3 linked regions of the Homo sapiens genome follow. The protein of the gene in region 1 interacts with the protein of each later gene in a biochemical or structural test. Each region holds a gene or a part of one and is shown on either strand. Other genes may lie near its edges. The genes, in order: NOSTRIN, MAST1 and LNX2.

Region 1 (2,350 bases):
CCTACCCATGAGCATGGAATGTTCTTCCATTTCTTTGTGTCCTCTTTTATTTCATTGAGCAGTGGTTTGTAGTTCTCCTTGAAGAGGTCCTTCACATCCCTTGTAAGTTGGATTCCTAGGTATTTTATTCTCTTTGAAGCAATTGTGAATGGGAGTTCACTCATGATTTGGCTCTCTGTTTGTCTGTTATTGGTGTATATAAGAATGCTTGTGATGTTTGCACATTGATTTTGTATCTTGAGACTTTGCTGAAGTTGCTTATCAGCTTAAGGAGATTTTGGGCTGAGACAGTGGGGTTTTCTAGATATACAATCATGTCATCTGCAAACAGGGACAATTTGACTTCCTCTTTTCCTAATTGAATGCCCTTTATTTCCTTCTCCTGCCTGATTGCCCTGGCCAGAACTTCTAACACTATGTTGAATAGGAGTGGTGAGAGGACATTCCTGTCTTGTGCCAGTTTTCAAAGGGAATGCTTCCAGTTTTTGTCCATTCAGTATGATATTGGCTGTGGGTTTGTCAGAGATATCCTACCATCCCCTAATTTGGGTTGATCTCATTGGTGTCTTGATTGCCTGTCTCTCTTCTTGGAATTGATCTGTGTTCCTCATCTCCCAGGCTCTGCTTGACCCCCTCATAGGCCTGCTGTGTTCTGTTGCCACCCAAATCCAGAGGAAAAAGACATCTAAGTCCCACTGCTGTTGTCTACCAGATAACTCTGACTTCAGGCAAGCAGCTGAACCCACCTTGGACTCCGTCTGTTTCTGTGACACCAGGGGTTATACTGGATCATCTCTAGGGTCTCCTAGAATTTGGAAACTCCTCTAGGAACCAAGGAGCCTCTTCCTTGTCTGTCTCCACCCATCCATCTTTTTTCTGACTGTTTCAAGCTAATAATCATGAATGCAAAGTGCTGTGACATGCAGGTAGAACTCCATCCATTTCAAAAGAAAAACATGTAAAGGTAAGAGCACTTTATTCTTATTTGAACCACACTGTATTGTTGATTACCGAGTGTGAAGGTAGTATGTTCAGAGTCTTGTTTTATGCCTTTGTAGCTGTGTTGCCAGCATTTGAAGGTAACTCCTCCACATAAGCGGCAGGAAAATGGCCTTTTTTCCCATTCAAAGATCCAAACCACCATCCTCCTTCTTTTTTCTCGTGTATAATCACAATGTCACCTGTGAAAATACAGTTAGACAAATGGGTCTCTGTGATGTGAACACATGCCTCAGCCCGATTGATAAGAGTTTTAAGGAGGTTCTGCTTCAAGGATTTACTTGGTAGTGTCATTTTCTGCACTTGATTCAGATGAAGCCAAATGTATCGAACACCTGTGTATAAAGCAGGCATAATCCAGAGGATACTAAAAAGAGTAAGATAATGAACAACTGAGATATATCATAAAATAATTGCTTAAAGACAGGATTGGCTGGGCGTGGTGGGTGACGCCTGTAATCCCAGCACTTTGGGAGGCCAAGGTGGGTGGATCACAAGGTCAGGAGTTTCGAGACCAGCCTGACCAACATGGTGAAACCCCTTCTCTGCTAAAAATACAAAAATTAGCTGGGTGTGGTGGCGCACGCCTGTAATACCAGCTACTCAGGAGGCTGAGGCAGGAGAATCCTTGAACCCGGGAGGCAGAGGTTGCAGTGAGCTGAGATCATGCCACTGCACTCTAGCCTGGGCAACAGCAACAGGGCAAGACTCTGTCTCAGAAAAAAAAAAACAGGATCACAGCCAGGCACGGTGGCTGACAGCTGTAATCCCAGCACGTTGGGAGGCCGCGATGGGCAGATTAGGCAGATTACTTGAGGTCAAGAGGTTGAGACCAGCCTGGCCAACATGGTGAAACCCCGTCTCTACTAAAAATACAAAAATTAGCCAGGCATGGTGGCACACGCCTGTAGTCCCAGCTATTTGGGAGACTGAGGCAGGAGAATCACTTGAATCCAGGAGACGGAGGTTGCAGTGAGCTTGGGAGACTGAGGCAGGAGAATCACTTGAATCCAGGAGACGGAGGTTGCAGTGAGCTAAGATCACACCACTGTACTGCAGCCTGGGTGACAGAGCAAGACTCTGCCTCAAAAAAAAAAATAAAAAAAGATCACGTTGGATCATATATCCTTATGCTGCCTGGCTCACTTTCTATTTCTATGTAGCTGATGGATTGTCACCAAACTCTTTCTTGGTGTCCGTACTTTGAGGGTTTCACATGCTGGTGTTTTTGATTGTTTGGCGTGTTGGCTGCTATAAGTATGTCTCACCAACAGTCTTTTCTTAAGATCAAGACAATGTCTCTGCATTATCCCTGATTTCACAGGCCAAAAGTTTAACTCACTCACAGCTT
Region 2 (3,130 bases), on another chromosome or scaffold:
CGGCTCACTGCAACCTCTGCCTCCTGAGTTCAAGCCATTCTCCTGCCTCAACCTTCTGAGTAGCTGGGACTACAGACAGGCGCGCGCCACCACGCCCAGCTAATTTTTGTATTTTTAGTAGAGACGGGGTTTCACCATGTTGGCTAGGATGGTCTCAATCTCTTGACCTCGTGATTCACCCACCTCGGCCTCTCAAACTGCTGGGATTACAGGCGTGAGCCACGGTGCCTGGCCGAGACTGTTTCTTCATCTGCAAAATGGGGAGAATAGGCCAGGCGCAGTGGCTCAGGCCTGTAATCCCAGCACTTTGGGAGGCTGAGGTGGGCAGATCACTGGAGGTCAGGAGTTTGAGACTAGCCTGGCCAATATGGTGAAACCCTGTCTCTATTAAAAATACAAAAATTGGGCCGAGCGCGGTGGCTGTAATCCCGGCACTTTGGGAGGCCGAGGAGGGTGGATCATGAGGTCAGGAGATCGAGACCATCCTGGCTAACATGGTGAAACCCCCTCTCTACTAAAAATACAAAAAATTAGCTGGGCATGGTGGTGGGCGCCTGTAGTCCCAGCTACTTGGGAGGCTGAGGCAGGAGAATCGCTTGAACCCGGGAGGCGGAGCTTGCAGTGAGCCGAGATTGCGCCACTGCACTTTAGCCTGGGCGACAGAGCAAGACACCATCTCAAAAAAAAAAAAAAAAAAAAAAAAAATGGCCAGGCGCGGTGGCTCACGCCTGTAATCCCGGCACTTTGGGAGGCCGAGGTGGGTGGATCACGAGGTTAGGAGTTTGAGATCAGCCTGACCAACATGGTGAAACCCCATCTCTACTAAAAATACAAAAAAAATTAGCCAGGCGTGGTGGCAGATGCCTGTAATCCCAGCTACTCAGGAGGCTGAGACAGGATAATCGCGTGAACCCGGGAGGCGGAGCTTGCAGTGAGCCGACATCGCGCCACTGCACTCCAGCCTGGGTGACAGAGCGAGAGACTCCGTCTCAAAAAAAAAAAAAAAAAAAATTAGCCGGAGGTAGTGGCGCATGCCTATAATCCCAGCTACTTGGGAGGCTGAGGGAGGAGAATCGCTTGAACCTGGGAGGCGGGTGTTGTTGCAGTGAGCCAGGATTGCGCCACAGCACTCCAGCCTGGGTGACAGAGTGAGACTCCGTCCAAAAAAAAAAAAAAAATGTGGGGGGAGGAATAATAACTATTTCACAAGGTGTTATGAGGATTCTAATGCATGCAGAGCTAAGTGTCCTGCATATAAGTTTAGGAGCTTTCCTTGTTACCAATCCCACTAACCCTGTCCCTATGGGGTGCTCTTTTCCCAGCATGTGGAGGAAGGAGGCCCAGCCCAGGAGGCAGGACTCTGTGCTGGGGACCTCATCACCCACGTGAATGGGGAGCCTGTGCATGGCATGGTGCATCCTGAGGTCGTGGAGCTGATCCTTAAGGTGAGTGCAGGGAAGGAGGCACCCTGGGCGGAGGGTGGGGGAGGCCTGAGCAGCCCCTAGCAGAGCATTTTCCCGCATTCTTCCCCCAGAGTGGCAACAAGGTAGCAGTGACCACAACGCCCTTCGAAAATACCTCTATCCGCATTGGTCCCGCAAGGCGCAGCAGCTACAAGGCTAAAATGGCTCGGAGGAACAAGCGACCCTCCGCCAAGGAGGGCCAGGAGAGGTGGGCACAGCCGTAAACAGCCTGGTCTTTGAGCAGTGGGTGGAACTTAGGCGGGAGGGGCACAGATGAGGATGGAGAAGGGAAGAGCACGGGAAAGGTGGCGGGAACAAATGACCAACAAGCAAAGGGAAGAGGACAATTAAGAGGGGCTGCGGGCTGGGCGCGGTGGCTCACGCCTGTAACCCCAGCACTTTGGGAGGCCGAGGCGGGCAGATCACGAGGTCAGGAGTTTGAGACCAGCCTGGCCAATATGGTGAAACCCCATCTCTACTAAAAATACAAAAATTAGCCTGGCATGGTGGCGCTCGCCTGCAGTCCCAGCTACTTAGGAAGCTGAGGCAGAAGAATCCCTTGAACCCGGGAGGTGGATGTTGCAGTGAGCCAAGATTGTGCCACTGCACTCCAACCTGGGCAACAGAGTGAGACTCCATCTCAAACAAACAAACAAACAAACAAACAAAAAAAGAGGGGCTGGGATGAGTCACACCTGTAATCACAGCACTTTGGGAGGCTGAGGCAGAAGGATCACTTGAGCCCAGGAGTCAAGATTAGGGGCAACATAGAGAGACCCCATCTCTACAAAAAACTTAAAAAACTAGTTGGGTTTGGTGGCACACACCTGTGGTCTCAGCTACTCGGAGGCTGAAGTGGGAGGATTGCTTGAGCCTGGGAGGTCGAGGCTGCAGTGAGCTATGATCTCACCACTGCAGTCCAGCTGTGACAACAGAGCTAGACTCTTTCAAAAAAAAAAAAAAAAAAAAAAAAGAGGGGCTGTAAAAGTGGAAGGAGCCAAGAATGGAAGCTGTGCCAAATTTCTAGGATCAGAGAAAAGCATTGTAGGAGGGTCTTGCACATATAGGCAGGCCCAGGAGATGTGAACTGGAAAGGGAGATGTCCAGAGACGGAGGGGGTCCAGGAGATGGTCCTATCCTGTTAGATGTGTTTAGACAGAACTGGGAAAGGCTAGAATAAGAAATGTCTATCTGGAATGAGCATGCCAGGCAAGGTTCAGCCAACTGAAATCCTATTTTCCCTTATAGATAGGAGGAGCTAGGTGGGAGGTGGGTGGGGCCAGAAGGGTATTCTGTTTGTTTGTTTGTTTTTAGTATTCTGTTTTGATCAGTGAGTTTGGCCCAGACAAGTACAGGGATTTGGGTGAGAGGAGCCAGACGGGGTTGAGATAAGTACATTTCTTCCCACTCTTATAGGTGGGTTGTAGTGGAAGAGGCGGGACTAGAGGCAGGTGGGACCAAGTTGGTTTTGTTTGGATGTGTTTCTAGCCTGGACTGGGAGTGGCCAAAAGGTTGGGCAGGACCTGAAGTGGGAGGAGGGAGGAGCCAAGCAGCACTGAGTTAAGGGAAGTTCTGTCTTGATAGGTGGGTTGTAGTGAAAGACGGAGGGACTAGAGGGGTGGGCAGGACTAGAAGAGGTTGTTTTTGGCCGGGCGAGGTGGTTCACA
Region 3 (3,661 bases), on another chromosome or scaffold:
TCAGTTATAAAGTCTACATTGTAGAAATTCCACTGCATTATTACTGTTTATGGAAACCTGTATACTAATAACTCCAATAATGGCAATCTTACATCTAGTTTAATGATTCAAATTGATAAGAAAAGTCTGAGCACATAATCTGATTAATGAATTCACAAAGGGTCTCTCCTATTATAGGCCCTGACTTCTGGTTGGCTTTTAACTGGTGTGTTGGAGCCAAGTAAAGCCACCCCCCTTTCCCACATATGGACTATTTATGGTTATTCAAGAGTAAACACTTGGAAAGAGGCCTATTGGTATTTTTTACTATCTGGTTACCTCCAACTTTGTATAAGCTAAATAAATATAACACAGTGAGCCAATTTGAAAATCTCGAAGAGGCAGTAAGATGGTTGATTTGCAGACCAGAGAGCTAGCTTGCATTTTCATTTTTGCAGACCATATACATAAGCAGTGTGTGGCTTTGGTGGTTTTCCCACATTTATATATATTTATTTACATATACAAATGTTATTAAATAGCCTCTTTGAAAAGGAGAACCATATGCTGTTAGAGCTTTTTGCTACTCTTAGAGTTTCATATGCAGCCTCTTTGAGCAGTTTTGAAGAAAAAAAAATACTGCTATTATAAATTACCTCAATATCATTAATAAAAGTAATATAACTTAGAACATTATTAAGAATAAGTATTTTCAGTTTAATGAAGTCATCAATAATGGCATTTTCAGTTCTGAAGGAAAATAATTACAGCTGTTGATTGATAAAAAAATACATTTAGCTCAAAAATGAGATAGTTTGCTATGCTGATGTTATTTTTACAAAATCTAGAAACAATATTTTATTTGGTTTCTGCTTTCTCTGAATTTCACTGGCAACCATGCATTCCTGGAGGAAAAATCTTTTTCCAGTTGTAGAATATTCCCCAGCCTGCTTCACAAAGATGTTATGAGGCTGCATGTTTACACATGGCTGGATTTTAGCCAGACGTTTTGTAAAGTCATTTGTGATATGTGTGATATGTCTGAATATAAGACAGAAAAATGTGAACCTACAGGTAGGTAGCTTTGTAGCTAAATAGTTGGAAATGGTGGTTTGACTAATGAATCTATATCTGCGTGGATTTTTAGAAGCTGCTTTCTAAATATAATAGAACTTCAGAAGTTCCATTCTTGACCCTGTATTATTCAATACTTTTACCAAGGACTTGGATGACTACCAAATTAATAGATGTTGCAGACTTGGGAGAAAGCAAGTTTGTGTGTGACATCTGTGCATTTGGTGACTGAATTCTGAAAGGTGTTAATAGGTCAAAATCAACAAAATTCAAAATAGTATTTACAACTATCAATCCTAAGTCAATAGGAAGAGGAAAGTCTTGCCTAATGTGGATTTGTGTGAAAAAGATGTAAGAATTTTAGGTGATCATAAACACCTAACTCAGAGCCTGTCATATAACAGATGGTCAGAGGATGTTGGTTTCATCTCAGACCGATTCAGAGAAGAACTCTAATTGTGATAAATGCTAAGAATCATGCTCATCTCTTGTAACTAAAGAAATAATTGAAGTTAGGTGTATTTTCTAAGTGCTGTTACATACCCAAGGATCAGTCACTATACTTTTTTTGAGATTATAAAGGTGAATACATAAATGTTATATGAGTATTGAATAATGCATTAGATATACATTATATTTTACTTTTAATGGTAAAAACCGTAATTACTTTTGCACCAACCTAATATTTCTGTGCTGAAGAATTAGAGTGAAATTACAATTAACCTGGTTTTCTTTCAGGTAAAAGTCACTTATCTAAAATAAGTTTGTATACCTGAAATGTGCTACTTTCCTTAAAATAACAATTTATTTTCTCTAGCTTAAGTGTATTTAATTTGGAAGAAGCAAATTTGTAATCTAGTAAAACTTAAATTTCTGTTCCACTAGAATTAGTATTTATTTCATTAGCACTTGCCCCATGTTAATCTGTTCATTCTCATACTGATCCCATGAAGTAAACACATTTTACAGATGAGGAGACTCATTCAGACAAGTTCTATAATTTGCCTAAGTTATCAGTTAGTAAATGGTAGTACCTAGGACTCTAATTCAAGACCGTCATTAAAGCCCGTGATCCTAGCTACTATTCTCTCCTTGATGCTAGTCACTGTAAGTTAATATTAGAAACTCTGTTTTTAAATGTCTTTAATGTGGTTTTCTTTGTAAATAATGATTGTATAGCATTCTCACCATACTTAGCACTCTCACAATACTTAGTTTCCTGTGGAAATGTCACATAAACATTCCTACAAATTGGAAAAATAAAAGGTTGTCACACTTCGGTCACAATTCTTTTTTTCTAGGTCAACAACTACAATATCAGCAATGTGTCCCATAACTATGCCCGAGCTGTCCTTTCCCAGCCCTGCAACACACTGCATCTTACTGTGCTTCGAGAGAGGCGCTTTGGCAACCGAGCACACAACCATTCTGATAGTAACTCTCCACGAGAAGAGATTTTCCAAGTGGCTCTTCATAAACGGGACTCTGGTGAACAGCTTGGCATTAAATTGGTGCGAAGGACAGATGAGCCAGGGGTTTTTATTCTTGACCTGTTGGAAGGGGGGTTGGCTGCCCAGGACGGCAGGCTAAGCAGCAATGACCGAGTGCTGGCCATCAATGGGCACGACCTGAAGTATGGAACTCCGGAGCTTGCTGCCCAGATTATTCAGGTAAACCCTCTTGGCCTTCATTCCAAAGGCTTGGCCGAAATGATCATATAGTAGTATTTGTTTTCACTGGCCAATAACATCAGAATTCAGGGGACATTTTATATTTCATTAGAAAATCGGGTGTGGCTACCTGAATTCTTTAAAATCCACACTAGTATAACTTCATTGGAGATAGTCTTTTCTAAAAACTATATCCCTGTGAATTTTGGGGATGGTTATTTACAGAGCGTAGGCTCTACTGTTTCACATTCATTTCTCATTTGGGTCCTGGGTTCTACTATTAAGCCAGATGTAGCAGATGATATGTCCACCTTTTAGAAGTGAGGAAAGGGAGGCTCAAAAGAGCTGTGATTACCAAGGATCTGACTTACCTGGTCTCTTAACTCCCTGTCAGGATCTATATAAATAGAGGAAGAATAACTCTTATCTCTATAGTGCTTTGTTGTTGTTTCTAAGGAATTCACAGTGTTTAAAATACATGATAAAATTTGTCCTCATAGCATCTTTGTGACATAAGTAAGGATAGTCATTATTAGAGAAAGAACATGTTTTTCATAAAAGCATGAAGATGGATAAGTTGGAAAGTCATCCAGAGGAGATCTATACATTCTGCAACATGCCATAGCATTTAATGATATGAGCAACTTCTACAGTGATAAGGGTGCAACAAAAAGATGTTTTTCTTAAAGTTAGCAAAACAAAACACTGTAAAGGAAACCAAGAATTATGTAATTGAGGATCAGGAAGTAGGGTAGGCCGATAGTCATTGAAGAATGTGTTTACAACACAGAATCAAATAACAATGAAAATTTAAGACTATAAGAAAATTCAAGTCTCAACTCTCTTTATTGTATTGAGAGGAGATTCTGATATTGGTCTAATTTCATAGACTTGAGGTTTAAAGAAATTGGATGCCTTAAAATTTCCTCAAATCAAAG

What was found.
Region 2: the proteins of NOSTRIN (region 1) and MAST1 interact in a test that uses a peptide from one of them, tested with the Homo sapiens proteins (one large-scale study listed by IntAct).
Region 3: the proteins of NOSTRIN (region 1) and LNX2 interact in a test that uses a peptide from one of them, tested with the Homo sapiens proteins (one large-scale study listed by IntAct).

What each region holds. Positions count from the first base shown.
Region 1 is NC_000002.12:168,863,665-168,866,014, reverse strand, and holds the end of NOSTRIN (nostrin), read right to left. Parts: exon of another isoform or gene 1,182-2,350; coding exon 1,045-1,181; 3' UTR 630-1,044; coding exon of another isoform or gene 619-629; 3' UTR 501-618; downstream 1-500. UniProt on the Homo sapiens protein: Multivalent adapter protein which may decrease NOS3 activity by inducing its translocation away from the plasma membrane.
Region 2 is NC_000019.10:12,869,502-12,872,631, forward strand, and holds part of MAST1 (microtubule-associated serine/threonine-protein kinase 1), read left to right. Parts: intron 1-1,322; coding exon 1,323-1,445; intron 1,446-1,534; coding exon 1,535-1,671; intron 1,672-3,130. UniProt on the Homo sapiens protein: Microtubule-associated protein essential for correct brain development. Appears to link the dystrophin/utrophin network with microtubule filaments via the syntrophins. Phosphorylation of DMD or UTRN may modulate their affinities for associated proteins.
Region 3 is NC_000013.11:27,561,475-27,565,135, reverse strand, and holds part of LNX2 (ligand of Numb protein X 2), read left to right. Parts: intron 1-2,354; coding exon 2,355-2,723; intron 2,724-3,661.